Linked DNA regions of Homo sapiens. The protein of the gene in region 2 interacts with the protein of the main gene of each other region in a pairwise test. Each region holds a gene or a part of one and is shown on either strand. Other genes may lie near its edges.

Region 1 (7,027 bases), on a different chromosome or scaffold from region 2:
GCTGCAGAGCCATGGACTCACCAGAGAAACGGCATAGCTTTTGCAAAACCAAGGCCCTCAACAGAGCAGAAGTGGGCAGTGCAACCACGGCACGTCCTGCTAGCTTATCGGCTTCCTGGGCCTCCCCCCGCCTCTGCTCACCACCATCCTCGGGTCCAGTTTCCCAGTAGCAGCAGTGAGCAGGCCCCGGGCAGCTGTGCCCGTGATGTGGGTTTCTCACTTGGGCCTCTGGCTGAGGGACCTCCCACCGAAGGTTCCAACCACAGCCCCACCTGACAGGCCACATGGACCTGATGCAGGTTCCTACAGAGCCTCCGATGAGGTTGTTTGCTGCAGACTGTTCACACAGAAACGCACACTGCGGCCCCCACCCCACCACACAAGGGCCCTCTGGGGGTGCGGAACGCAGCAGGGCCTGCTCCTGTCTGTGCCTGCCGCCTCTGTTGGCTTTCATCTTCCTGGCGACTCAAATGTGACCCTCCAGGACCTGAGGGCTCTGTGCTTCCCTCGGTTCTGGAAGGTTCTGACGACGACACCAGGGACTCGCCATAGGCATCCTCTTTTCTCTGTGTTGCATCCTGAGAGGTCTTTCCAGGTCCACGTTCCAGGCACCAACGCACTCCACAGCTTCTGTCCTTCCTGACCCTTCTGAGGGGAGGTTGTCTGCCTGATGCCCCCTCATCCAGAGTCTGTGGCATGCACTTTCTACACACGAAGACTCTGACCAGCACCCCAAAATCGGGGCACCCCTGTGGACAGAAGCCTCCCGCGGGCCTCAGCCCACTCAAGCCCCGTCCTCATGGGCACAGAGGGCTGTTCCGGGCCTGTGGTTGCTCAGCTGTCTTGTCTCTCGGGCCTCCGTCATCCCAGCGGCTCCGCGGGTTCTTGACGTTCAGGACCTGTGACTTGAAAATCAGAGGCCGGTGGCTGTGCAGGTGCCCTCGACTTGGGCTGTGACCTCATGATAGCCTTGGGCCATGCCTGGCAGGCAGGGCCCCAGATCTTCCACAGCACAAGCACGCACACACGCACGCACCCACACACAGCCTACAGTGTCAGCCACTTTTTGTTAAGTAGACACCATCAGTGCCTAGTTTTAGCCAAACCTGAGTCAAGGGTTGGCTGGCATCTTCTCAGAAGTGATAACAAACCAACATCCTTTCTTTTCAACCATAAAGAAATTCCTGACTTGGAAACTGATGTCTGCAGAAAAGCTAAAAGGCTAAGAAATCCTGACCAAGACTGTGTCAGTGCTCTCAAAATGCCTACTTCCCTGCACAGACACTCAGATGGTCACGTGGTTTAACCTCAGACACCGCGGCTAACAGTGCGTTGCGCAGTGGCTCACACCTGTAATCCCAGCACTTTGGGAGGCTGAAACGGGCGGATCACGAGGTCAGGAGATCGAGACCATCCTGGCTAATACGGTGAAACCCCATCTCTACTAAAAATACAAAAAATTAGCCGGGCGTGGTGGCAGGCGCCTGTACTCCCAGCTACTCGGGAGGCTGAGGCAGGAGAATGACGTGAACCCGGGAGGCAGAGCTTGCAGTGACAGCAAAACTCCTATCTCAAAAAAAAAAAAAGAAAACACTTTTCTCATCTTCCCGTAACATCTTTCCTGTTCAAAGTCAACCCATCAAAATAAGGAAAGATCATTAATCTGTTCATCAGCGCAGGAATGCTCTGTAGACGGAGTCAGGCTGTGCTGGGCTCCAGCTAGCACTCAGCTCCATGACCTACTGCCCAGCCAAGCCCCCATGCCCGAGACTGGGCAAAGGTGCCATTATTCTATGCAACAGCGAAAGCCAAGGCAGCTTTAAAGTCAAGACGTTTACCTGGAGACGACCACTGTTCAGCCACAAAAACACCAAGTTTTCCCCAAGGGCTGTGCAGGGGCCAGGCCTGGGCTCTGAGTCTTGAGAAAGGCTCAGAGCTCCCCCTCTTGAGGGGAAGCATCCACCTTCACAAGGCAAGACACTTCCTGCCACCAGGGAGGGTGTGGCCTTGGGGCATGGGGGCTCTTCTGAATGAACAGCTCCCTCTGGGCCCTAAATGCTGCCTGAGACTTGATGTCCCCTGCTGCCCTCAGGGACTGGCCACTTGCAGATGTTGCTGGGATCACACGCTTACGCCTAGAGGTAAGCCTGGCTCGTGGGAGGCCAGGCAAGTGCCTTTCCCGCGGACCAGTTCACCAGGCCCACGCTGAGCGGGGAGGACGATGGGCTGAGGACCGCAAAGCCGGTACTTACGGGAATGTGAGGTAGGGGCACCCGCCCATTGACCTGCACGCTCTCCTGCATCTCCCTGCGGTGCTGCTTACGGATCCTGTATGGGGGGATCCCATCCCTGTCCAGGAGAAAGAGGCAGCCGTTAACTCAGAGAGGAGCAGGAGGGCCAGCACCGTGCCAATAGAGCTCCTGGCCCCGACCGCCGGTCAGCAGGCAATGATGAGGACACCTGTGAGCCACCACCACTGAGACACGTGCACACAGGTGATGCAGGCACCCATGTGTGCACAGGGGAACATGTACACACAAAGGTTCACACGTGATGGTAAAGCCCAGGTGCCCAGCCACGCGTCTTCCTAGCTGGTATTTACTGGGCACCTCCACAAAGCCTCCTTGTGCCTGCCTGTTCTTTAGGGCCTGACAGCTAAGAGTGGTTTCTACATTTTTTTTTCTTCTTTTTTTTGAGATGGAGTCTCGCTCTGTCGCCCAGGCTGGAGTGCAGTGGCACAATCTCGGCTCACTGCAAGCTCCACCTCCCGGGTTCACGCTATTCTCCTGCCTCAGCCTCCTGAGTAGCTGGGACTACAGGTGCCCGCCACCACGCCCAGCTAATTTTTTTGTATTTTTAGTAGACACGGGGTTTCACTGTGTTAGCCAGGAGAGTCTCGATCTCCTGACCTCGTGATCCGCCCGCCTCGGCCTCGCAAAGTGCTGGGAGTAATTACAGGCGCAAGCCACGGCGCCCGGCCAAGGTTTCTACATTTTTAAAGGGTGGGGGAAGAATCTGTGACAGGGACTGCATGCGGCTGCAAAGCCTCACATATTCACTGCCAGCCCTGCACGGGAAACGTTTGCTGGCCCCTGCTTGTGGCCTAGACCACTGTGCAGTGTGCCTGCCTTGGAGGGCATTGCTAAATGGACCAAAAACATTTCAGGATTGCACAGTGGGCAGCCAGGACAACCAGTGCCCCACGGAAAGATAGGAGATGCCAAGGCTGCACACTCTGCTTCTCTCCAGGAGCTGGCAGGGCAGTGTGGTCTCTGAGGGAGGCACAAGGTAGCTCTTTAGCAACAGGTTTTCTTTTATTTTTTTCTTTTTGAGACGGAGTCTTGCTCTGTCGCCCAGGCTGGAGTGTAGTGGCGCGATCTCGGATCACTGCAAGCCGCTCCCGGGTTCACGCCATTCTCCTGCCTCAGCCTCCCGAGTAGCTGGGACTACAGGTGCCCGCCACCACGCCCGGCTAATTTTTTGTATTATTTAGTAGAGACGGGGTTTCACTGTGTTAACCACGATGGTCTCAATCTCCTGACCCCGTGATCCGCCTGCCTCGGCCTCCCAAACTGCTGGGATTACAGGCATGCGCCACCGCGCCCAGCCCGCAACAGGTTTTCTTTATGAACCCTTTAGAAGATCATTAAAACACGAAAGTCAGATTATACATGGTCTGAATAATTACCCCAGGGTTAAGATAACTCACGCACAACCATCCTTCATGAAAGCCCTCGCCCTCTCCCAGCTATTAGAAAAGCTGCCTTCGGGCTGGGCGCAGTGGCTCATGCCTGTCATCCCAGCACTGTGGGAGGCCGAGGCGGGCGGATCACGAGGTCAGGAGATCGAGACCATCCTGGCTAACACGGTGAAACCCCGTCTCTACTAAAAATACAAAAAATTAGCCAGGTGTGGTGGCGAGTGCCTGTAGTCCCAGCTACTCGGGAGGCTGAGGCAGGAGAATGGCGTGAACCCGGGAGGCGGAGGTTGCAGTGAGGCGAGATTGTGCCACTGCACTCCAGTCTGGGCAACAGAGCAAGACTACGTCTCAAAAAAGAAAAGGAAGAAAGAAAGAAAAGCTGCCTTCGGAAGCACGGCAGCTCCAGGGATCCGTGCCGCACCCAGGGGCCTCTCAGAGCTGCCAGGAGACACAGGACGACTGAAGAGAGCGCCCGACCCAGGGCTGCGTGGCAGACACGGCAACTCCTGAGGCATCCTCGGCTGTCACAGCACCACTGAGTGTTGTGGGCAATGGTGAGCCGAGTCCAGGTCTGGCTCAGCCACGGTGGGCGTCAGGAACAAGTGAATCTAAAACTCACCTAACACTTGCCTCGGGGTTTGTTGAAGTGTCCTGAAGCCACCAACCTACTGGTTTCTTAGACATGATACTTGGATTGGGTAACCTCCACAGGCCTCCGTGGATTAGACACTGACCCCACATCTGTGTCCACAGCCCACAGCCTCTCGAGTGCCATGTGGAATGTTGTGAGCTTGCCGCCAGCACAAAAGCTGAGGGCAGCTGCCCCACCGGAATGATGCTCTTCACCTGTCCACTTTTTACCTCTGATTTGCTTTCGAGTACGTGTAGCAATTTCACATTCCAAATTGTTAAACACTTCAGTACAAACCAAGATGAACAGAATATCAAGAAAAAAAATACCTATTTATTTTAGGTCCTCCCTTTAGGAAACATATGTCCCTTTTCTTGGAGAGAATTAGGAGACTTTTTGAGAAAACTGAGTTGGCAGGTTACTTTTTGTTGTAGTAACAGAGTTTTGGGGAAGAGGGAAACCAGATGCTAGGATGCATGTCAGGCGCTCCGTGGGCTGCACTGCACCCAACCACCTGGCCCGAGGCTTCAGGACCACGGCAGGCACTGCTTCAACTCCAGTAACCTCAAGTCAGGTGCTGCTAAAATCACGTCAACATTTTATTTTGAAGATTCAAAATTAAACGAGGATGAAAGAAACCAGGAGAAGCCACACACAGCAGCTCTGCCCGGAAGGGGCAGGGAGCTGCCCCTGCACTACCACAGCTACCTGGGGAAAAACCAAGGGGCCAAGACCTACGGCAATGTGGGCTGGCTGAATCTGGTTCAGAAACAGAATGTGACAACTTGTTCTCCTCATCTGAAATTCAGGTTTTGGAAAAATGTTTAAAGACAGGCAAATGAAAAGAACAAACCAGCCAGGCACAGTGGCTCATGCCCATAATCCCAGCACTCGTGAGGCTGAAGTGGGTGCAGTTTGCGCCCAGGAGTTGGAGACTGCATAGTGAGGCCTCGTCTCCACAAAAATAATCATCATCATCAGCCGGATGCAGTGGCTCATGCCCGTAATCCCAGCACTCATGAGGCTGAAGTGGGTGCACCGTTTGAGCCTCGGAGTTCGAGACTGCATAGTGAGGCCTCGTCTCCACAAAAATTATAATAATCATTAGCCAGGCGTGGTGGCGCACGCTTGTAGCCTCAGCAACTCTGAAGGCTGAGGCAGAATTGCTTGGGACCAGGAGACAGAAGCTACAGTAAGCCAAGATCGCACCATTGCAGTCCAGCCTGGGTGACAGTGAGATCCTGTCTCAAAATGAAAAGAACCATAAAAATGGTACATACAGTGGGACCATCACTTAAAACATATTCATAAAAAGATGGGCAGAATCACCAGTAGGTGAGAAGTCCCTCTCTCCTCCTCCAGCCCTATCCAGATCTCCAGGCTTTCCTCATGGAGAACCCAGCTAAGCGGGAAAGACATCTGGGACACCACTGGCCGCAGTGGGGATGGAGGGTGGTGGTCCGCGGGCTCCAGCTGCTCACAAGTTCATAGCCGCTGGCTTCCTCCAATGCTGAGGCTGCTGCAGGGAGACCCTGGTTCCTGCGGCTCGGCCCCAGCCCTGGCTAGGATGGCTGGTGGGCAGGTGGCGTGTGGCGCACAGACCAGAGCTGGGAAGGTCTGAGCTTCATGGGTAACCAAAACCCCAAATGACCCCCACAGGCTGGCAGCCAGTGCCCTACTGCAACAAGACTGTTGGCATCATCTAATGGCTGGGGTGTACATAGGTCCCAAAAAGCCAGCTGCGAAGCACAGGGGAAGAGGTCATAAAACAAGCACGTTCCTACACATGGGGTTTCCCTGGACAATGAAAGAATAAGCTTCTGCCTGTCACCTCGAGCGTCACACATGTGTGGCCCAGGCCTCAGCACAACCACAGCATCTTCCCTCACTCCTGCTCCCAGCCCCTTGCCAAGTGGGTGACAGGGACAAGACAGGACCCTGTACTGCACCAGCGTCGGCAGAAACGCCACCCTCAGGGACCACATCACTCGCCACAGCCAGTGGTGAGGCAGCTGGCCTGTGCCTGTCTTTAAGCTGAAACCCCAGACTCTGAAAACCAAAGAGCAAACTCTAGCCCGGGCAGCCTACAGACTGTCTTAGGTTCACCCTCGATCCTTCCTCATAGGGAGGTCCCAGCAGCCCTGGTCACAGAGAGAAGCAACCGACACAAAGCTGAGCCCTCACTTGTACTGCTTGGAGGACAGCCTCTGCGGTACAGCCTGCCTGCATGTCCAGACGCACTCTCACTGAGACCTGGGGAGCCAGGAAACACTTTTCCTGAAGACAAAGCCCAGGCATCTCTGGGTCAGCACGAAGCCCCCTCTGAGCTGGCCGCGCTCTGCAGCAGGGTGGGACTTACACGCTGCCATCCGCAAGAAACAGGGTGTCTGGGGCAGGACTTACACATTGCTGTCCTCAAGGGACAAGGTGTCTGGGACCGGACTTACACACTGCTGTCCGTGAGGGACTGGGTATCCGGGGCGGGACTTACACGCTGCTGTCCGTGAGGGACAGGGTGTCTGCATCGCTGGACAGGCTCTGCTGCTCGCTGTCGTTGGCACTGGTGGCTGGGGCCAGGGCATAGCCGGCATTGACATAATAGGGGTTGACTGGCTCCCGCCAGGATCCATACCTGCAAACAGGCAAGCAGGGCATGTTAGTGACAGCCTGCCAACAGCCTCTCATTTTATTTCACA
Region 2 (7,027 bases):
GAGGCTGAGGCAGGAGAATCACTTGAACCCGGGAGGCAGAGGTTACAGTGAGCCGAGATAGTACCACTGCACTCCAGCCTGGGCAACAGAGCAAGACCACCTCAAAAAAAAAAAAAAAAAAAAAAAAAGCTGACATGGTAGGTATCTATGGAATGGGTCACAAATTTGAGTATGCATTATAATCACCTGGAGATCATCCTAGGCCTACCGAATCAGAAACTCTAGGTGCCCAGGCATCTGTAATCTTTGAAGCTCTCCAGAAGATTCTGTCACCTCTTGCAGACCGAGGACCACTGAGCTACCATCATCTCTTTGTTCCTTTGTTTTCTCTTACACAAAACTTTATTGCTCAATGAAAAAAGGCTTAAGCAATACCCCCTTCCTTCCTTATTGGATCTGGTTTTCAGTACAGATTATATGCATGCCTGAAAAGAAAATTAGAAAGCAGAAGCAGATTTTTGGTAGTTGGTTGTCAATTTTCTTTTGAATTCTTCACCTCCATGCAAATTGAAGCAGGACTTATTTTTAGCAACTTGATGAATGCAATTTACCAAAGTTTATTACATTATCTTTTATTACAATAAGACAGGAAGGTCAGTGGAATTGTCTGATTTTTCTTTCTCATTTACCATAGTTCTCTTTCTAGGAACTCATAGTACAGAATCAAGCTATGGGATATATAGGTTATTTTGATTCTCTATTTGTGCCCACTTCTATATTTTTGTATAACTTCAGTAGTGTATACACTTTTAACCTTTTTGGAGACATTCTTAGGAATAGCAGTCTCTTCGTTGACTTTCTGTTGTAGTTTTCCTAATGTTTGCTCCCTGGTGACCAGGAGACCTTCTATGTCAGTGGAGACAACTCATCCAAGGCTGGCTGAGCCAAGAGAGGTGGGCAGGAAGGCCAGGTGAAGGCCCCCTTCCCTCCTTTACCACACCTCAATAGAGAATCTTTATGTCTCCTGTACCCTTTCTTTTTCTCTTATTAGCACATTATGGACTTGCGCCTTCACATGAGCTTGGGCCCTTACCTGATTTATAATTTGCTATCTATGACTTTATGGTTGTTCAATCTTGAGAAGGAATGACTGTCCCTGGACATCTTCCAAAACCATTTTCTATATGATTGAATTGTACTTGACTCTTCTTATTGTGATGAGATGATTTCCCCCAATAGCTTTTTAATGGCTGTAGGAGAGCAATACAGAGCACAGGACCTGTCTAGGATAAGCAGGATACATACAAATGATCCCTAGTGTCCCAGGGCGTGGTACAGTCCCTTATCTACCCATTTCCTTCCATTGAAGTGCCTTGTAAGGCTTGGCCAACATGTAAGGAAGGAAGGCATCTCTCACCTATTCTTGCCTTGTTCATCAAAATGCATCCATTCCATCTCATCCACTTGTTGCATGGTAGACTATATTGGGTACTAACTTAAGCAGATGGGTACAGCTCAACTCTACGCAAACTAGCTAATGTGCTTTCCCCAGGTAGCATAAAATGTTAACTTGATTGCCATGCATAGACTTTTAAAAGTTGCTAAGGAGTTAGTCCTTTAAACGAATAGTATTTATTGTTTTATGGGGGTTTTTAAATTATGAAATGTGTGTGGACATTATAAAAATTTTGGAAAATACAGAAAAGCAAAAGGAAGCAATTTAAACCATGTATAATTCCACAACTCAAAGAAAACTATAATTAACACTTTGATGTGTATTACTCAAGTTTCTGTTTCAGAATGCTGCACATTCTCTTTCTCCATAACTACTTTTTATGCCTAACAGAGTATATATGCTTTTCATGCCATTAGATAGCCTTCTAAACTCTGTGACTTATGTAGAAGCCAGGACCTCATTATTGTGCATTTAACTTATTTCTGAATTTCTGCAAAAACAAGGTGGTGATGAAAATATTTTGAGCAATGAGTTTCATACACTTTTGCATTATATCTTTAGAATAAATGCACATATGTCAAAACAAATGCACACTTGAAAAGCTTTTGATACATATTACTAAACTGACTTCCAGAAAGATTCTATCAATTACCAATTTTTTAAAATAATGAATAGACTTTGTTTGCAAAATCATTAAGTTGCAAAAACAAAGACACCACAGGAGTTTTAAATTAGACTTTTTTTTAATCTAGAAAAAAAATTTAATGTACTTGCTTAGTTCAGCAGAAGCTGAGAGAGGTCTCAAGACCCTGAACAATAATACTGATTTTATTATTTTATCTTATTTTATGTTTTTAAGTTCCGGGGTACACGTGCAAGATGCGCAGGTTTGTTACAGAGGTAAACATGTGCCATGGTGGTTTGCTGCACAGATCATCCCATCACCTAGGTTTTAAGCTCAGCATGCATCAGCTCTTTTCCCTAATGCTCTCCCCTCCCCCGCACTTCCCCGACAGGCCCCACTGTGCATTATTCCCCTCCCTGTGTCCAGGTGTTCTCATTGTTCACCTCCCACTTATAAGTGAGAACATGCAGTGTTTGGTTTTCTGTTCCTGCATTAGTTTGCTGAGGATAATGGCTTCCAGCTTCATCCATGTCCCTGCAAAGAACATGATCTCATTCCTCTTTATGGCTGTATAGTACAGTCTAACATTGATGGGCATTTGGGTTGGTTCCGTGTCTTTGCTATTGTGAATAGGGCTGCAGTGAACATTGACATGCATGTGTCTTTATAATAGAATGATTTATATTCCTTTGGGTATATACCCAGTAATGGGATCGCTGGCTCAAATGGTGTTTCCAGTTCTAAATCTTTGAGGAATTGCCACACTGTCTTCCACAATGGTTGAACTAATTCACATTCCCACCAACAGTGTAAAAGCATTCCTATTTCTTCACAACCACCATCAGCATCTGTTGTTTCTTGACATTTTAATAGTCACCATTCTGACTGGCATGAGATGGAATTACCAGTATGTTTTGAGAGTTCCCAGAATCCTTACCCATTTGAAAAAGTATTGTTTTTAAAAAATTCCTGCTAACTTTATGGGCAAGAAAATTCTCAGCAGTTTAATTTGCATTTCCTTGTTTAATACAGAAGTCTTTTGTGACTATATTTTTATACTTTTGCTAAAGATTATTTAGTGCATTGGTTAAGTGGTGCTATTCTAACGCCTGAGTGTTCACTTACTGATGACCTTGAGTAAATTCCTTGATCTCCCTATGCTCACACCAACTCTGATAATGGCAGTACCTACTCATAGAATCTGTATGAAGACTAAAGAGGGTATCACATGAAAGATGCCTAGAAAATATCAGGCATATATAACATACGTTTATGTTCTCTGTCATTTACATCTTCTCTGAATTGCTTCACTGTCTTTGGGTAAGTAGATTTTTTGGTAGCTTAGAAATATATATATTAAGTATCTTAACCTCTTGTCTGTCATATATTATAATTTCTCCCCAGTTGGTGGTTTGTCTTTCAATTTTGTTCAAAGTGAGGAAACAGTTGAATATCAAGAAATTCAGACCAGGTGAAGGCATAGTTTTGGTCCAGGGTGGATCTTTTTTCTGCCTGTCAACCATACTGCTAGGAGAATCACCTTCCCCATCCGTGAGAAGGTCTGGTATTGATTATAGCCACCAGATATCAGAAATGGCACTTTAAGCAGCTTACATTGTTACATTAAAAATCACCATCATAGAATAAAACTTCTGCTTAATTTATGTAAATAATGATCATGGTAGATGAAAGGCCGTGGTTAATATTTCACCATTTTCCATTTACCACCAAATCCAACTTGTCAGCATTCCATTAGTGGTGATATAAAATTAATTACTTCAACTTGAAAGAAGCTTTTAATTTGAGACCAAGAACCCTGATAGATTGCGTAACCATTAAGTGTTACTACTTTTCCCCTCTTTGCTGCAAATTGTGTAGTAGAAAAAGAATCTTTCTCATCATGAAGTCTTGTGTATAAACACAAGATATTCCCTATATTAGCATATATACATGCTACTAAAAATGAAAGTTTTTCACTTCACTGAAAAGCAATATGAACATAGAGACTATTACTTTGCCTTACTAAGCAGAGGAATTACCAGAACCATCCTTGTAAAAACATGAACATTCTGCTTGAGCTGCCAACTTGTTTCAAAAAGCTATTAAAAGTGGGCAAACATTGCTGCTACATGATGAATGAATGGGAGTGTGTTGTAGTATTGCTACTAGGCCACGTATGATTGGAATTTTCCACATAAAAGCATTTTAAAAAGCAGTGTTATTTACGATGCTTATCATTAGGGAATGATATTGAGAAGAGGAGTAAGGAAACCTCAACTTCTAAATTTTACACTTAGATTTCTGTATTTTGTTGTCATTTTACTTCAAGCATGTTTTACTTTTACAACATCTTCAAGAGAAAAAAATTTAAATCATGATTTGCATGGTAACTGTTTTAAGAGTTGTTAGTGTGTACAGGAGGGGATGCTTCCCAGTGCCGAAATAGACACAAAATAGGCAACATTTAGATGTTGGCCCCAAAGCCTTGTAGATTATCCTCAATTAAAAATACTTAAGTTTGCAAGTCTTTCTTCTTCTTTTTTCTTTTTTTTTTTTTCTGTGTCTGTTTTAATTTGCAATGATTGGAAAACATAAAGCAATGAAAAGAGATGGTTTCCCAATGCAATCTAAAATTTTCACACACCAGGGCCTGTTGTGGGGTGGGGGGAGGGGGGAGGGATAGCATTAGGAGATATACCTAATGTAAATGATGAGTTAATGGGTGCAGCACACCAACATGGCACAGGTATACATATGTAACAAACCTGCACGTTGTGCACATGTACCCTAGAACTTAAAGTATAATAAAATATATATAAATAAATAAATAAATAAATAAAATTTTAAATTGCTCATTGAGTTCTGCGCGGCTATGATATTGAACTGCAGGTGCCTATAGGCCTTAAAACACAACTGTTTCATGTTGTTCAGTCATCTTATTTCTTTCCTTGTAAGCAAAATGTCAGAACATTTAGCTCCTTTAGTGCACTTATTGCCCACACCGAGGAATACAAAATTGGGACTGCTGAGTAAAATGTTTAAGTTTCAATCCCTTGAAGGCAAATATTTGACTCTCAATAGAGAAATTTAACTTCATTATCTCTACTTGCAGGCAAAATGAAAGACCGGCTAGCAGAACTTCTGGACTTGTCCAAGCAATATGACCAGCAGTTCCCAGACGGGGACGATGAGTTTGACTCGCCCCACGAGGACATCGTGTTCGAGACGGACCACATCCTGGAGTCCCTGTACCGAGACATCCGGGACATTCAGGATGAAAACCAGCTGCTGGTGGCCGACGTGAAGCGGCTGGGAAAGCAGAACGCCCGCTTCCTCACGTCCATGCGGCGCCTCAGCAGCATCAAGCGCGACACCAACTCCATCGCCAAGGCCATCAAGGCCCGGGGCGAGGTCATCCACTGCAAGCTGCGCGCCATGAAGGAGCTGAGCGAGGCGGCTGAGGCCCAGCACGGCCCGCACTCGGCAGTGGCGCGCATTTCGCGGGCGCAGTACAACGCGCTCACCCTCACCTTCCAGCGCGCCATGCACGACTACAACCAGGCCGAGATGAAGCAGCGCGACAACTGCAAGATCCGCATCCAGCGCCAGCTGGAGATCATGGGCAAGGAAGTCTCGGGCGACCAGATCGAGGACATGTTCGAGCAGGGTAAGTGGGACGTGTTTTCCGAGAACTTGCTGGCCGACGTGAAGGGCGCGCGGGCCGCCCTCAACGAGATCGAGAGCCGCCACCGCGAACTGCTGCGCCTGGAGAGCCGCATCCGCGACGTACACGAGCTCTTCTTGCAGATGGCGGTGCTGGTGGAGAAGCAGGCCGACACCCTGAACGTCATCGAGCTCAACGTACAAAAGACGGTCGACTACACCGGCCAGGCCAAGGCGCAGGTGCGGAAGGCCGTGCAGTACGAGGAGAAGAACCCCTGCCGGACCCTCTGCTGCTTCTGCTGTCCCTGCCTCAAGTAGCAGGCCGGCCCGGGCCGCCACCGCCCATCCCAGACCATGGAGCGCGCTGGGAAGGACGCACCAAAGCCGGGAGCTCTGCCCTGCAGGGAGTTGCCCCAACCCTTTCCGGAACTCAGTCTTTAGAAAAGAAACGCCAGGTTCAAGAATTGCAAACCAGCCTGTGCTTGGAAAGATGGTTAGTTGATACCGTCCGATGATTCTTCAGTAAAGATAGATTCCCACAAAGTTGTGCAATGTCATTATATGACACCTTGCACTCTTACCGTCTTGACAGAAGCCAAGTAAGGAACTGAAGTTGTATCTGACTGTAGGGTGAATGTCTGAGGCCTGCCTCCTAATAAAGACTCAAGGAGGAAGTCAATTGGGCATCTGCTAATAGAATGAACTCATGATGGAAACTTCAGTTCATTTACTTTGTCCTGAAAATTCCCTGGTTCTGTTCCATTTTGAGCGAAATTGGCCTTGGGAAAAACCACGTTCTTCCTTTCCGATTCTTCATCCGGTCTACGCTATGCAATTCCTCCCCAAATATAGATCTTATTTCTGCTCATTTCCCCTACTTATTAAAATCACACCAAACACTTACTATTTTCTTATCTCTTTCACTTTTTAAATATCTTTCACCAGGTTATATTTTGGTATTATTTTTCCAAACATTTTTAAGCACTGAATATCGAACAAGCACTCAAATTGAAGTATCAGTCATGTTTTGTGTATTTTTCGCTGATAAAAATTATTTAACATTTATATTTTTACTTGATTACATATGCACATGTATGTAAATGTAAAATACTAATATTCACTAATATATGTACATAATGATCAATTGGTTTAACTTCTTTTATGTAAGTATGGTATATAAATTTCAAGACGAACACTTTTCTGGCTCTTGGTATTGGTTTGCTTGTTTTGAGTTTGTTTCACTCCAGTTTGCCCCTTCCTAGTCCAGTTTGGGTCAAACTTCATGTTAAACAACTCTGCATTGGTTATGGCGGTAGACATATGGCGGTAGAAAATGTATACGG
Region 3 (6,845 bases), on a different chromosome or scaffold from region 2:
ATTTTCCTCCCTCTCTTGTGGGAGGCTGCCACGAGGCAGCCCCTCATCTGCCTCTCTGGCCACTCTGAGATGTGGGGCTTTCCACCTCGCCTCCCCACAGGCGACAGCAGCAAGCTATCGTTGAAGCATGGAAGCAGCTCTTCAGCCACGGGGTTCCTACCATTCCTAATGCCTGTCATTCAGCCCCCTTTGTTTTGGTGTCGTCCAGTAGGACAAGGGACACAGGAGGCTGCACCTTGCCTTTACTGTCTGTATAAGTAATAAACTGTCTGAATCTATCCAAGCTCATTGTCTGCTTACTGGCTGAGTCTGTCAGCCTGCTGGACATACCCCTAGAAAGCCTCTGTTCCCATCTGACCCCCATTCCCCACCTGCACAAATCAGAAGCTAAAAGAGTATTTACTAAAGCATGAGATGTGCAAAAATCACCCAAGATGACCTCAGGTGGCACTCACAGGTGTAGCATTAAGTGACTCCAAATCTCCTATCTACTTTCCAAACTTCTACAACCTTCTATCCAATATGGTAGCTACTGGCCACATCTCCTGTCTATCTACTTTCCAACTTTCTAGAACCTTCTATCCAATATGGTAGCTACTGGCCACATTGCCTTTCTAGCTACTTTCCAACCTTCTAGAACCTTCTATCCAATATGGAAGCTACTGGCCACATCTCCTTTCGATCTACTTTCCAAACTTCTAGAACTTTTATCCAGTATGGTAGCTACTGGCCACACCTCCTTTCTATTTACTTTCCTGCCTTCTAGAAACTTCTATCCAATATGGTAGCTACTGGCCACATCTTTCCAACTACTTTCCAAACTTCTAGAGCCTTCTATCCAATATGGTAGCTACTGGCCACATCTCCTTTCTACCTGCTTTCCAACCTTCTAGAACCTTCTATCTAATATGGTAGCCACTGGCCATATGTAGCTAATTAAATTTAAACTTAAATAAATTAAGATTAAACAAGATTCAGTTCTCTACTCATGCTGGCTACCTTTCAAATCCTCAATGGTCACATCTGGCCAGTGGCTCTGAAATGGATGGTGTAGATGTAGAACATCTCCATCATTGCAGACAGGTCCACTGAATGACACTGGTCTAGAAAGTCTTGGTGTGTTATTAGTGTGTCCTTAACACCTCTCTGTGTCTCACTAATCTCTCTCTCTCACTCTCTTTTTTGTTTTTTAATTTTTTTTTTTTTTACAAAAAATGATCAGGCCACATGCTTAGCAGCAAGACTATTTAGCTAAAAATTAATAGCATTAAAACATTATGTTTATTTTTACAGTTACCTTCTACTTTAGGCGGGTGATGTTGGCTTTCAATTTACGGCTGGGAGGGACATTTTTAGATCCAACACTGGATTCTAAGGATCTCCTGCAGAACTGCCTCATCCAGTGGGCAGGGTCTGTGTAAATGGCACCCTCCTACTGTTGGGCAGTGCGCAACCTGCATAATCTTACATGGCAGTCCTGCACACTCCTCAGTACTTCAGGAGGGCACAACAGTAAGAGCCTAGGGAGAGGGGACCTAGAATATCTAAAAGTCCTAGCACCCGTCTCTAGGTCCCTTCCTGTCCACCCTCTACCCCAACTCAGTGTCCCCCTAGACTCACGCTCCACTCAGCACTTTCAAAGATCGCACAGTCTCGAAGCCAAGCTCCAGCACGCTGGGGCACTCGGCCGTGAACTCGTGCCGCCGGCCCTGGAAGCCGTCCTCATCCCACACCACCATCTGTGCCAGGAAAAAAAAAAGGTGGAGATCCGCATCAGAGTCCCGTGAAGGGTGAGAGGTTGGGGGCTCGCCCCAGGATCTGGCAGGTAAAGCAGGGATTGCAAACTCAGATTCCTCCAGGAGCCAGGAAGGCAAGAGCAGTGATAAATGTGAGACACTAGACAGCACAGGTGCCAGGTAAATGGGTGGCCTCTTCCCAGTGCCACCAATGGTTGCCAAGTGGGAATGCAGGCCAGACCTTCCAATTTCTCAAGACAATCACTAGATCTGGACTTTTATGTGGTTCTTCCAGGCTTTTAAAGGCTGATGATAAATCCAAAAGCTTTATAAAACAAACAAACACACACAGAGATGGTCAAAGAAATCATGCCCAAAGACTGCAACCTCTGCCAAAGAGTGTAACAGGTCAACTTTGGGAACCAGAAGACCCAAATTCACATTCAACCTCCCTGTATGTGACATACAAGTCCCTTCTCAACTCTGAGCCTTGATTGCACCTCTGTGAAATAGGCATTTATAATGCCCCCCTCCTAGGATTCATGGGGACCTGAACCCTCCCCATACCCCCTGAACACCCCCTCCCCATGCCTCTTCCTACCTTCCAGGGTCCCGCTGACTTTGTGCATTGCAGGGTCATTGTGGCCCCTTCCTGCAGAAGAGAAGAACATTATAATCTTCCACCCTGACCCTCTGCTCTCCTCTTTATGCAGATGGCTGGCTTGGACCTGGTCAGGATCCACATAGGGAGTCCAGGAGTGACTGGGCTAGGGGCAATGCATGGCTTTGGCCTGTCCCTCTCCTGTCCTTTCCATCTGTCACCAATGCCATCTTCCATCCTATCCCCATCTCAAAACTCACCCTTGCTGGGTCTCATTGACTCTGAGCCCCACTCTGTATTCTCTTATCTGCTTGTTATGGGAAAATTTTTGTGGCTGCTGGTGGGTGGGTGCATCACCCCAGCGAGTGCTGAAATGCTCAGCATAAGAGAGCCCTTCCAAAGACAGCACCTAGCTCAAAGAGGTAGCTCTGATGGTGGAAATTTAGGCAATAGGGCTACAGGAATAATTTGTTTTTAAATGAGGGAAGCAGGTGCTGGTCTTGATGGTTGGGGCTCATCCTTGGTTAGGATGAGGATGGCATTCAGGATGACACAGTGACATCCCTAGGACTGGGGACCTGGGTTCCTCGCCTCCCAGAATGCTCACTCAGAACTCTGATCCCACCCCTCCTCCAAACCTGGGACTTACCGAGATAGGCCCAGGGAACATGTCAGATCTGAGACCAGCCGAGGTCGGGCTCTTATAGGCAGGGAGGGAAGAGGGGCCCCTGGGAGACAAAGCCCCGACTCAGCAACTGGGCCACAGAAACAAAAGCCAGCCCTGGCTGAAGAGCCAATGGCAAGCCGTCAGCAGCTCTGGCTTTAGCAGGGAGGGAAAGGACCAGATCACCACCCCCAGGGATCAGCCACGAAGAAGGAGAGAGGTGGAATATTGGCCCTCATCAGCCCCACAAGGTTCCTGACTAGAGCAGGAGAATGAGCACTAGATGAGGAGTCCAGAAGCATCCTTCCTAGCTATGTGAGCTCCAGCGAGTCATTTCCCCTCAATTTCTGCCTATAAAATGGGGCAGAAACAAACCATATCACAGAGTTGTTGTGAGGTTACATAACATGCCTGGTACAGAGTAAACATTCAGGAAATGCCTATTCCTTTCCTTCTCTCTTTCCCCTTTCTCTTCCAGTTGAAGCAATCCAGATAGGCTTGCCGTTAGAGGAGGCATTTGAACTAGACTCTGAAGGATGAGGAAGATATGTACAGAGTGAGATGGAAGGAGAGGCATTCTAAGAAAAAGTTCAGAGGTGGGAACTTGGGGCACATGTACAAGAAAGAGCTGGTAGCCCAATTGGCCTGGAGCTCAGGGGACCTGAAGGGAAGTGAGGCAGGAGAAGAGGGCTAGGCCAGGGCCTGCTGGGTCCACAAAGCCTGAAGATGAATCCGGATGGCACTGTGGGCAGCATAGAGGAGCTGTTAGTTGCAAACATGCTTTGCAAACTGTGGCACACTTGCCAAATATCCAGGACTTGTACAATTTGCTGTGTGCCTCTTGTCCCGAAACCCTGCCCTCTGAATTGGCGTATGAGGGACCTAAGAGGTCCCTCATACATACATACTTGTGTGTAAAATGGGTGTAACAAGCATAGGAAAACAGCATGACTGGAAACCAGATCATCTGAGATGAAATCCAGCCCTGCTTCTTTCTTACCATCCGTGTGACCTGGAGGACACCTGAGTCCTGCTCATGACCTGTAAAGTGGCCACACCAGTTTCCTTTTAAGAGGGTGAAATGCAGCTCTATCAAACGCATGACTTTAGGCTGGGCGCAATGGCTCACGCCTGTAATCTCAGCACTTTGGGAGGCCGAGGTGGGTGGATCACCTGAGGTCAGGAGTTCAAGACCAGGCTGGCCAACATGGTGAAACCCCGTCTCTACTAAAAACACAAAAATTAGCCGGGAGTAGCGCGGGCGCCTGTAATCCCAGCTACTAGGGAGGCTGAGGCAGGAGAATTGCTTGAACCTGGAGGCAGGGGTTTCAGTGAGCCAAGATCATGCCATTTCTCTTGACCCTGGGTGACAGAGCAAGACCCCGTCTCAAAAAAAAAAAAAAAAAAAAAAAAAAGGAATGCATGACTTTGATGAAGGGTTGGCATGAAAATGAAAGGTTAACAATGCACCCTCTACAGCCAGACTGCCTGGGTTTGCATCCCACTGGTGCTGGCTGGGTAACTTTTAAGCATGTTACTTACGCACTCTGAGCCTCAGTTTACTTGTGTGTAAAATGGGTGTAACAAGGTAAGTTGGGATTAGTCTAAGAAACAGGGGGATTGTGAGGATAAATGTGAATAGCACATGAACAGCAGCTGGAATTGCTCCTGCAACATAAAAAATATTGTGGTATTTCCATCATCTTCATCATCACCATTGCTAATAAGAAAGATGATTATTATTAATTGTTGATCAAAAAGCAGGGGTGCATAGTTTTTAAGAGCCTGGGTTCATGAGTAAAGAAGATGTGAGTTCCAATTTTATCTTACATTTCCATTTTTATGAGAAAGTGGCTGAGAGAGAGGAAGGAAAGGGAGTTGCTTCAGTTTCCTTATCCGTAATTGGGGTTAATCCCAGAGACTTCATCCTTATACTGAGGAGTACAGGACAATGCAAAAAAAAAAAAAGAAAAGAAAAAAAGAAAAGAAAATAAATTGGCTCCATAAGACAGGGCAAAAAAGAAAAAGATATAATGAAGGATACAATAATAATAATAAATGCTCAGAGTGGAGCCACCAACATGGTGGGCCATCCCCCTTCTCTGCCCCCACCCTCTGGCAGACAGCCCATTCCTGGGGCTTTAGGGGGGGCACGGAACTGCCCCAGATGACCTGGCTTTGAAGCCTAGACTGGTGGGTGGGCCCTCACCACAGGCGTCTTGGCCCCAGTTCCAGTGGCTACCCCATCTTGCAGTTCCTGCCCACACCCCACCCACCAAGTCTTGGCCCAGGATGAAAGGCCAAGGAGAGGCTAGGAAGCGAGGGGGTGCTGGGTGGTGGAGGGACAGAGGCAAAGCTGGCTCCAGGCCAGGGAGAGTTCAAGACAGAGCTGGGCTCCACGGGGAGCCTAGAACCCCGAAAAAGAAGAGACAGGAGCCTATCCAGATGCCCCCGCAATATACCCTGCCTGGGACTGGGGAGCCGACTGCAGGTGACCTAGCTGAGCAGCTCCCCAGGCTCCTTCTGACCCCAGCTGTACTGTGAGTTCCCGCCATGTGACTATGTTGAAGTCATTTGTTCCACCTGGGCCTCGGTTTCTCCATTTGTGAAATGGGAGGATTGGGCCCTGTGATTTCTGGCGTCTGTTCCTCCGTCCTGAGGCTTGATCACCCCAACTTGACCTCTGTCTCTCCGTCTCTCGCTCCTTCACTGTCCATGTCCCCTGTGCCTCTCTGTGTCTCTGTCTCCACCTCTCTCTTTGTCTGTTACTTCTATCTGCCTCCTTACTTCTCTCTCCTTGCCTTGGTTTCCCTATCTCCTCCGTACCCTACCTTCTGTTCCGATCCATTGGAACCACCATTGAGTCACCAGTTATTGACTGAGAACCCATGATGTGCCAAGCTCTACCTAGCCAGGCCCAGCTAGGTGCTGGGGCCAGTGGTGAACAAGATGTGGTGGGCATCTGGGGCTTGCCAGGGCAGGAGGCTCTGGGACAGGCAGTCATATTTCTGGCCACCAGCACTGTCCTCCAGGTCAGATAACGTGGCCTGGGTAGAGGCGGGGAACTGGGGTGGCGAGAGGGATCACTGTCGATAGGTCAGGAAAGGATGGGGCCCAATGTGGGGAAAAGAAAAAGACCCAGGTCTCCGATATCCAACCCAGCTGAGCACAGTGCGACTCTCCCATTCCCACCCCAACCTACAAAGAGGAAGTCAGGCCAGGGGGCCTCAGGCCAAGGTCAAGGCTGGACAGCAGGAGAAGAAAGCACACAGGCCCAGAGCTGGCTGGCCTGGGCTGGCTCTGACCTCTCTGTGCCTTCACTTTCCTCTTCTGTGAAATGGGCATAATGAAAGTACCAAATAAGGCAGATTGTCCCGGGGACTGACCGAGATAACACGGGTTCGGCACACAGTAAGCACTCCGTAAAAAAGGCTGTCCATATCAAACCCACATCTGCCTTTACAAAACGCTTCTGTGCTCATTGTCACCTTCTTTTCTATATGGCATCCAACAGGGACACGTGCCCACCTTATAATTGCAGACACAGAGGCCCCCCTAGGGGTAGAGACCTACCAAAAGCCACACAGCGCGCAGTGGCTGAGTCAGGATTCAAACTCTGGTCTCCTGCCTCCCAGGGTCTCCCCTTTTCCCTGCCCCATGTTGGCAGCCAGCAGGGACCCTTTTGGGGGCCCATCCCTGGCTGGGGTTGTTGAGAAAGGAGTCAGGGTAGGGTTGGAAGGTGAAGCTGCTGTGGCCAGGGTTTCTGCTGTGTGTGCTGGTCTCACAAAGGAAAGTGCTGCTGTCTGCAGTGATCCAGGCGAGGTCAGGGCCCCAGTCCCCCACT
Region 4 (7,114 bases), on a different chromosome or scaffold from region 2:
GGTCCCTCCAGGTGAGGCCTGGGCGCCCCAGCTCCCTATTCGCCCTTGGCACCAGGGGCCGCCGTCCCCTTTCTTCAGGGCCCCAAGGGGAAACTAGAGCCCAGGATTGGCAGCGTGGAATCAGGGGACCCCAGTGGACTCTTACCAAAGATTTGATGGTGTTCTTCAGTTGACTGACTTTTACGGACCTCGAGTCTGGGACTACTGCTAGTTCTTGGCACGGGCTCTGAGGCGCATGCAGAGAGGAGGAGGTGGAGGAGGAGTGGGGGGAGAGGTAGAGAGAGCAATCATTAGGGCTGGGGTGTGTGTGGACTGTCTCAGCTGGCAGAGGGGCACCCCGTCCCACCTGGAGGAGGAGGTTGGAGGGCTGGCCTGCAGGGTCACTGCACCTCTGCCCAGAGCCTCTTACCTCCAGATCCTTCAGGGTAGCAGATGATGTAGGGCTCTCCCCGTGGATACCTGTTGCTGACTACAAGAGATGAGAGTGCACATGAAGATGTTCTGTCCCACTCAGTATCTAAGCCCTCTGACTTCTTTTCTTCCCCATCAACTGGCACAATTTTCTTTTCTGCCTATCTTGGACCCTTTGTCCCATAACTCCTTTGTGCCAACTTCTCTCATGGTTCTTATCTCCCCACCACAGCACCCTGTGGCCCTTTCAGTGACTCCTGTGCCAAGTGACTGTTCTCATTGTCCTGGCTTCCCCTTGAGACTGGGGATGAGGAAAATCGAACAGCAATGACCATATCCTGGGTGTTCTGGGTGTTTACAGCAGGCCATGTACTAGGGATTAACATAAAAACAACAATAACAAATCTCATTTAAACTTCACAAATGGAAGTGAAACAATACCACCTCTATTATACAGATGTGAAAAGAGAGGCCCGATGAGGTCTAGCAACTTGCCCTAATTCATATCCCTAGCAGACAAAGAGGCAGGATTCAAACCCAGAATTCTTCACAGGTACCCAACAGTCCATCCACAATCTTAACAATTACCCTCTAGTGCCCCTTGGGTCCCCTGTCCCCAGGAACCTAGTCAGCCAAGACTCACATCTCCAGGTGAGTGGCAACCACCAGAAGTGGCTGTCTCATGGATGCTGCCATTTGTTTTCCTGTTCCTCTTGGCTCCTGCTGGAACACCAGGGCTGTTTCTCTGCCAATATTCTTTTAACTGTCAGAAACAAGAGCAGTAATACTCATGAGAACTATCAGCCCCTGCAGCCACATCCTCCTTTACAGTTTTTATAAAATACTCTTATACACCATCTGATTTAATGATACCAACAACTGTACAAGGTGTTGTCACAATCATTTAGTGACTCAAAGAGATTGATATCATGGCTAGAAAAAAAAAGAAGAAAAGAAAAAGGCGACAGACGAACTTTGAAACTCAGTCTTCTGACTCCAAACTCTGGGGTTTTACCAAGAATCAGCAGCTGCCAGGGACCAAAACCAGAGGCAGAGGTAGAAAAGTAAACATTAAGTAGGCAGGAACTGTATGCCATGTGGTTTAGTCATACATCCTCACACGTCTGTTAGTGTGAAGAAGTGCACCAGTACCTCTCAAACTCTTATATCAATGTGTCCTCATGGCAGAAGGCAGCCTTTCTGTTAAATCTGGGAATTTATCAGAAAGAGGACAACCCAAGCCTCATTTCAGAGAGAAGTCTGGTATACTCTTAGAAACCTATGTGACTGTCATCCCTAAGTACATTAATGTTTTTTCTCTTGATCTCAAGAGAATCAATGGAAACTGATGCTTCAGAAAGATGTCCCATATGTATCCTGTGGCACTCAAAGTACCCCAGGTTTACATAATATGAGGAAGATTCAAGCTGTCAAGTTCAGTTTCCCAAGATCTATTCCAGAGAAGATGAGCAAATCTCACTTCACAGACCACTGGCTGAAGGGCAGTCTGGTCCCAGAACCATGGAGAATTAGAATGTGAGGTGGAGAACTCACAAAAAATTTGTTAAAATCTCTCTGGAAAGTAGAAGCCTGGGAGAAAACCAAACCAAGTCAAACCCATTCTCCAGTTGCCATCCAGAGGTACTGTCAATGTTTTGAGCTCACAGGGGAAGTGTAGGCTTTTCCCGCTGTCAATGTTTATGCTAAGGGAGTGAGGCAGCCTGAAACCTCTTGCTCCTAGGTCCCAATCTCCATTCCCCTTCCAGCTGGAAATTTGTGCTGTGACAAGAGGAACCAGAAATGGGGTGGCAATGCTTAGGGGACTGGGTCATAAGATCAAAGGCCAGTCTTGCAGTAATGACAGTTACTGGATGGACCGTGACATCACTACATTCCACTCTTCCTGGTGAGGGGGAGGGACCACATCAGCATGATGTCCGAGTCACCGCTCCATGATAGGGGAGGGAAAAACAGAGCTGGGACCCAGGTCCTTGGAGACACCAGTGCACACAGCCTAGGGAGGTCCACCTTGAGGCAGCAGGAGGGAAGGGAAGAGTCAGCAGCAGGGAGCCCCAGGATTCACCAGCCTAAAGTCACCCAGGGATGACTGGTGAGGGTGGGGTCTGGGGCTGTGGGACCCAGGTCCTTGGAGATGTGAGCCCAAAAAGCCCTGGGAGGTCAAGCTTGGGGTGGCAGGAGATGAGGGCCCAGTAAAGGAGCGGGGAGCCCCAGGATTCACCTGCCCAAAGTCACCCTGGGGTGATTGGTGAGGGCAGAGACTGGGCTGCTTGCTGAAGGGGTGGGGCTGACTGACAAAACTTTGGTGGGGGTAGCCCAGAGGCACCGGTGTGGGGGTCCCAGTCCGGTGAACCTCGGGAGTGGTATGGACTCTGGCAGCAGTCTTGTCGTTGGAGAGGATCTATGGCTGGGTTGGGGGTCCGTGACCTGGTGTGTTTTTACCTTTCTCTTGGCTGCTGCCAATTTACTTTGTCGAGTTTCTTCTGCCATCGCAGGGTGGGGAGGGAGGCGGGCTTGGGGCCACATCAGCAAAATCCCACCAAGCACTGATCAACACCTCCAGTCACCTACCAGGTAGCTGTGCGACTGAGCCAGAGGAGGCGTAACCAGGGATGCAGTAGAAGGCAGAATAGGGGCGTGGCCTTAATGCTCCAAGCCCATTGGTTAATGAGAAAGATGAAAGGGAAAGGGGGCGTGGCCAGGCATCATGTGTCCAGAGGGACCTTTGGCTCACAAGGAAAGCTGCCCATGCAACCACTGTCCCCACCCACTCTAAGAGAGGGGAGAGGCCGCCAACTCTGGGAGAGGGGCAGGGCCGGCTTTTGCTTTAAAAGCTTTTAAAAAATATATATGTGTATACTTTATATATATGTGTGTCTGTGTGTGTGTACCTGTGTGTTCCTCCAGAGCTGTCTTCATGATCCAGCTTCTATGCAAGGTCTATGATTTTGGCCTATATTTTTCATAGAGTACAAAAATTACCAGTATTACCTTAACCGAGATACAGATCCTATGAAGATGGAAAATCCATAGCATGCTTGATGATTACTGAAGCAGACTATATTATCCAACATTCCAATAAGATAAAATAATCACAATGACTTCTCTTTTTTGGAAAAATGTTTCTCTTATTCTCCTACGTTATTGTGAAGACTTTTTTTCTTAAACAAGAAACATGTGTAATATTTGTAAAAACACAAAGCTTTTGGGCCGGGTGCAGTGGCTTATGCGTATAATTCCAGCACTTTAGGAGCCTGAGGCTGGCGGATCATGAGGTCAGGAGATTGAGACCATCCTGACTAAAAAGGTGAAACCACATCTCTACTAAAAATACAAAAAATTAGCCAGGCGTGGTGGTGGGTGCCTGTAGTCCCAGCTACTTGGGAAGCTGAGGCAGGAGAATGGCGTGAACCCAGGAGGTGGAGCTTGCAGTGAGCTCAGATCGTGCCACTGCACTCGAGCCTGGGCTACAGAGCGAGACTCCTTCTCAAAATAAATAAATAAATAAATAAATAAAACTTCTATTTCTTTCACTTTCTAATATAATTTTAATATCTCCTCCTGGGATTTCACTAAGACACATTTTGGACCTCATTCTGATCTTCCTCTCCCCTCCAAGCCCACCAACTTCTGCCCTATCATCCATCCTCATGTCTCTCTGTGTGACATGCTGACTTACTTTTTGGAGAGAATCGCCTAAACAATTAATTCTTTCTTCTCGTGTCTAATCCATCCACTAGTTTCTTATTTCAACAATTACATTTTTATTTCCTTATTTCATTTTATTCTGAGACTGAGTCTCATTCTGTCACACAGGCTGAATTGCAGTGGTACGAACCTGCAGACTCGGCCTCCTGGGCTCAAGTGATCCTCCCACCTCAGCCTCTTGAGTAGCTGGGACTATAGGCAGGTGCCCCATACCCAGCTAATACCATACCCACACAGCAGAGACATAAAAGATTTCCATCCTCAAAGAAGGTTCCATTGAACAGCACTGCTCTAATTCAATAAAAAATACCACTGAGCACAACATAGTAATAGAAAAGATTGAAGAGGCAGTGCTGATACTTAAAAACCTGGTATTTTCAGCCAGGCATGGTGGCTCATGCCTGTAATCCTGGCACTTTGGGAGGCTGAGGTGGGAAGATCGCTTAAGCCCAGGAGTTCTAGACCAGCTTGGGCAACATGGTGAAACCCTGTCTCTACAAAAAATACAAAAAATTAGCTGGGCATGGTGGCATGTGCCTGTAGTCCCAGCTACTTGGGAGGCTGAGGTGGGAGATCACCCGAGCCTGGGAGGTCAAGGCTGCAATGAGGTGAGATGGCACCACCACACTCCAGCCTGGGTGACAGAGTGAGACCCTGTCTCAAAAACAAAAAACAAAAAACAAAACAAAAACACCTGATATTTATTTTTAAGTACACTATTTTCAAACATTCAGAAGTTATTTCATCCTACCTTCATGGTTTCCATTCTATGCCTGGTTTAGAATTGGGATCTGATAAAATAAACGTGTTCAACAGAACCACTTCTCATGGCTGTATAACAGATGATCAATATGTATTTGCTGAGGAAATTATACAATTTTCTTAATTTTTTTTTAACAAAAATTGTGGTTTCAAGGGACCAAACTTGAATACTACACCTTCATGTTCTAAGAATCAGGGGACTTATATAAAACCTCAGTTGCCTGATAAGGACTACATCAAAGTGAAAAGCCATGGGAAAGAACTAGAAAGTATACTTTTGACCCTAGTTCTGTAAAGTTTCCTTATGCCACAGGTAATACACATCGCAATTCCTGCCAAATTCTTTCCCTCACCTCTGTTTATGGTCTCGATTCCATAAATAGGAGAAGGGCATGAATTTGCTTTAGTTAGATAGACAGATAGATGGATAGAGAGATAGATGGATGGATGGATGGATGGATAGATAGATAGACAGAGATAAAGACAGAGACAAAGATGGAGACAGAGATGGACATAGAGACAGATTTGCAGAAGATAAGTTCTAGGTGAACTAGTGTCAACATTAAAGTGGTATGCCTACATCTAACTATTCTGGAGAGAAAAACATACCTCAAAGAAATTGACTTAAATATATACAGAGAAAAAGTTTAAGCTGAAAGCTACTGCCTTTTTATATGAGACACTTTAGGAAATTACTTGGGGGGCAAGAGAGAAAATGGGTGGACATAGCTCAGAGGTTACACAGTAGCAGATATGTAGGATGAACAAGCCTAGAAATATAATGTACAACGCGAGAAATATAGGTAATAAAATTGTGCTGTATTTGGGATTCACGCTAAATGAGATTTTAAGCTCCTCTTGCCACCAAACAAAAAGAAAACGGGTAACTATCTGAGTTGAAGGATACGTTAATTTGCTTCACTGTAGTAATTTTTTTTAACCATCTATATGCATCCCATAAAATCATGTTGTATACCTTAAATACACAGAATACAATTTATTTAACATAAAAAACTACTCCAATATTTTCTGCATTTTTAATATGCTCACCCAAAGAAAGCATTAATTTGCATCTTTGATGTTAAACAGATAGCCTAATCAAGTCACTATCAAGATCAAGACTAAAAGTTACAGCTTTTTTCTTTTGATGCCTTTCAGATATATCTATTTATATATAAAAATATATATACACACACACATACATACACACACACACACACATATATATGTAGTTATGTGTGTGTGTATATATAGTTACAGTTTTGGCCAGGTGCAATGGCTGACACCTGTAATCTCAGCCCTTTGGGAGACCAAGGCTGAAGGCTTGCTTGAGGCCAGGAGTTTGAGACCAGCCTGGGCAACGAAGCAAGACCCTATCTCTACAATTTTTTTTTTTTAACAAAATTAGCCAGGGATGATGGCATGCACTTGTAGTCCCAGATACTTGGGAGGCTGAGGCGGAGGATCCCTTGAGCCCAGGAGTTCAAAGCTGCAATGGGCTGTTACTGTGCCACTGGATCCCAGTCTGAGCAACAGAGCAAGACTTTGTCTCAAAAACAAAATTTATAATTAAAGATAAATAGTTATAGTTTTATGAACCTTGACTGCAACTGAGGGAAAATCCCGTAATTGGCAAAATGAATTCTGCCTGCTTGCAAAACTTCTGACTAATACGGAATGAATAATAGGAAGCCCATATTAGAGGATCCACATCAGTTAAAAAGTTTCCAAATAAGAGTGACTCTGAGTTCTGCAGAGTGAAAAGATTGGGTTCAAACCAAACACTTGAAGATCTTGAGTAAGATACTTAATCCCTCTGTGACTCACTGTTCTCAAATGTAAGTGAAGATAATTTGTAACTCAAAAAAAATGAAAAAGTTTTCTCTAAGATTGCAAATCCTAAGGATAATTTCATTTTAATATCAGTTATTTAGTCTGGATACACCATAATGCAGACTAATTTTCCCTCTGCTTAAAGACCACACAAAAACATTACCAATAAAATTTACTTGTGTATCAACTTTTACTCCTGAGACTTCATCGTTTGTTTGGTTAAAAAAAAAAAAAAAAAAAAAAGCGCACTAGACCGGGCACAGTGGCCCATGTCTGTGATCTCACTTACGGAGGCCAAGGCAGGTGGATGAGTTTGAGAACAACCTGGGCAACATGGAAAAACCCCGTCTCTACAAAAAAAAAATATAAAAATTAGTCAGGT

Evidence for each region.
Region 1: the proteins of STX11 (region 2) and AXIN1 interact in binary tests that used the Homo sapiens proteins (3 or more experiments, as listed by UniProt).
Region 3: the proteins of STX11 (region 2) and CRYBA4 interact in binary tests that used the Homo sapiens proteins (3 or more experiments, as listed by UniProt).
Region 4: the proteins of STX11 (region 2) and GOLGA8F interact in binary tests that used the Homo sapiens proteins (3 or more experiments, as listed by UniProt).

Annotation. Positions count from the first base shown.
Region 1 is NC_000016.10:307,721-314,747, forward strand, and holds part of AXIN1 (axin-1), read right to left. Parts: intron 6,964-7,027; coding exon 6,823-6,963; intron 2,350-6,822; coding exon 2,253-2,349; intron 906-2,252; exon of another isoform or gene 1-905. UniProt on the Homo sapiens protein: Component of the beta-catenin destruction complex required for regulating CTNNB1 levels through phosphorylation and ubiquitination, and modulating Wnt-signaling.
Region 2 is NC_000006.12:144,181,490-144,188,516, forward strand, and holds part of STX11 (syntaxin-11), read left to right. Parts: intron 1-5,133; coding exon of another isoform or gene 5,134-5,138; coding exon 5,139-6,002; 3' UTR 6,003-7,027. UniProt on the Homo sapiens protein: SNARE that acts to regulate protein transport between late endosomes and the trans-Golgi network.
Region 3 is NC_000022.11:26,618,128-26,624,972, reverse strand, and holds the start of CRYBA4 (beta-crystallin A4), read right to left. Parts: upstream 3,011-6,845; 5' UTR 2,987-3,010; intron 2,389-2,986; coding exon of another isoform or gene 2,377-2,388; coding exon 2,338-2,376; intron 1,740-2,337; coding exon 1,621-1,739; intron 1-1,620. UniProt on the Homo sapiens protein: Crystallins are the dominant structural components of the vertebrate eye lens.
Region 4 is NC_000015.10:28,374,567-28,381,680, reverse strand, and holds the start of GOLGA8F (golgin subfamily A member 8F), read right to left. Parts: upstream 3,018-7,114; 5' UTR 2,920-3,017; coding exon 2,872-2,919; intron 1,175-2,871; coding exon 1,055-1,174; intron 470-1,054; coding exon 410-469; intron 227-409; coding exon 146-226; intron 1-145.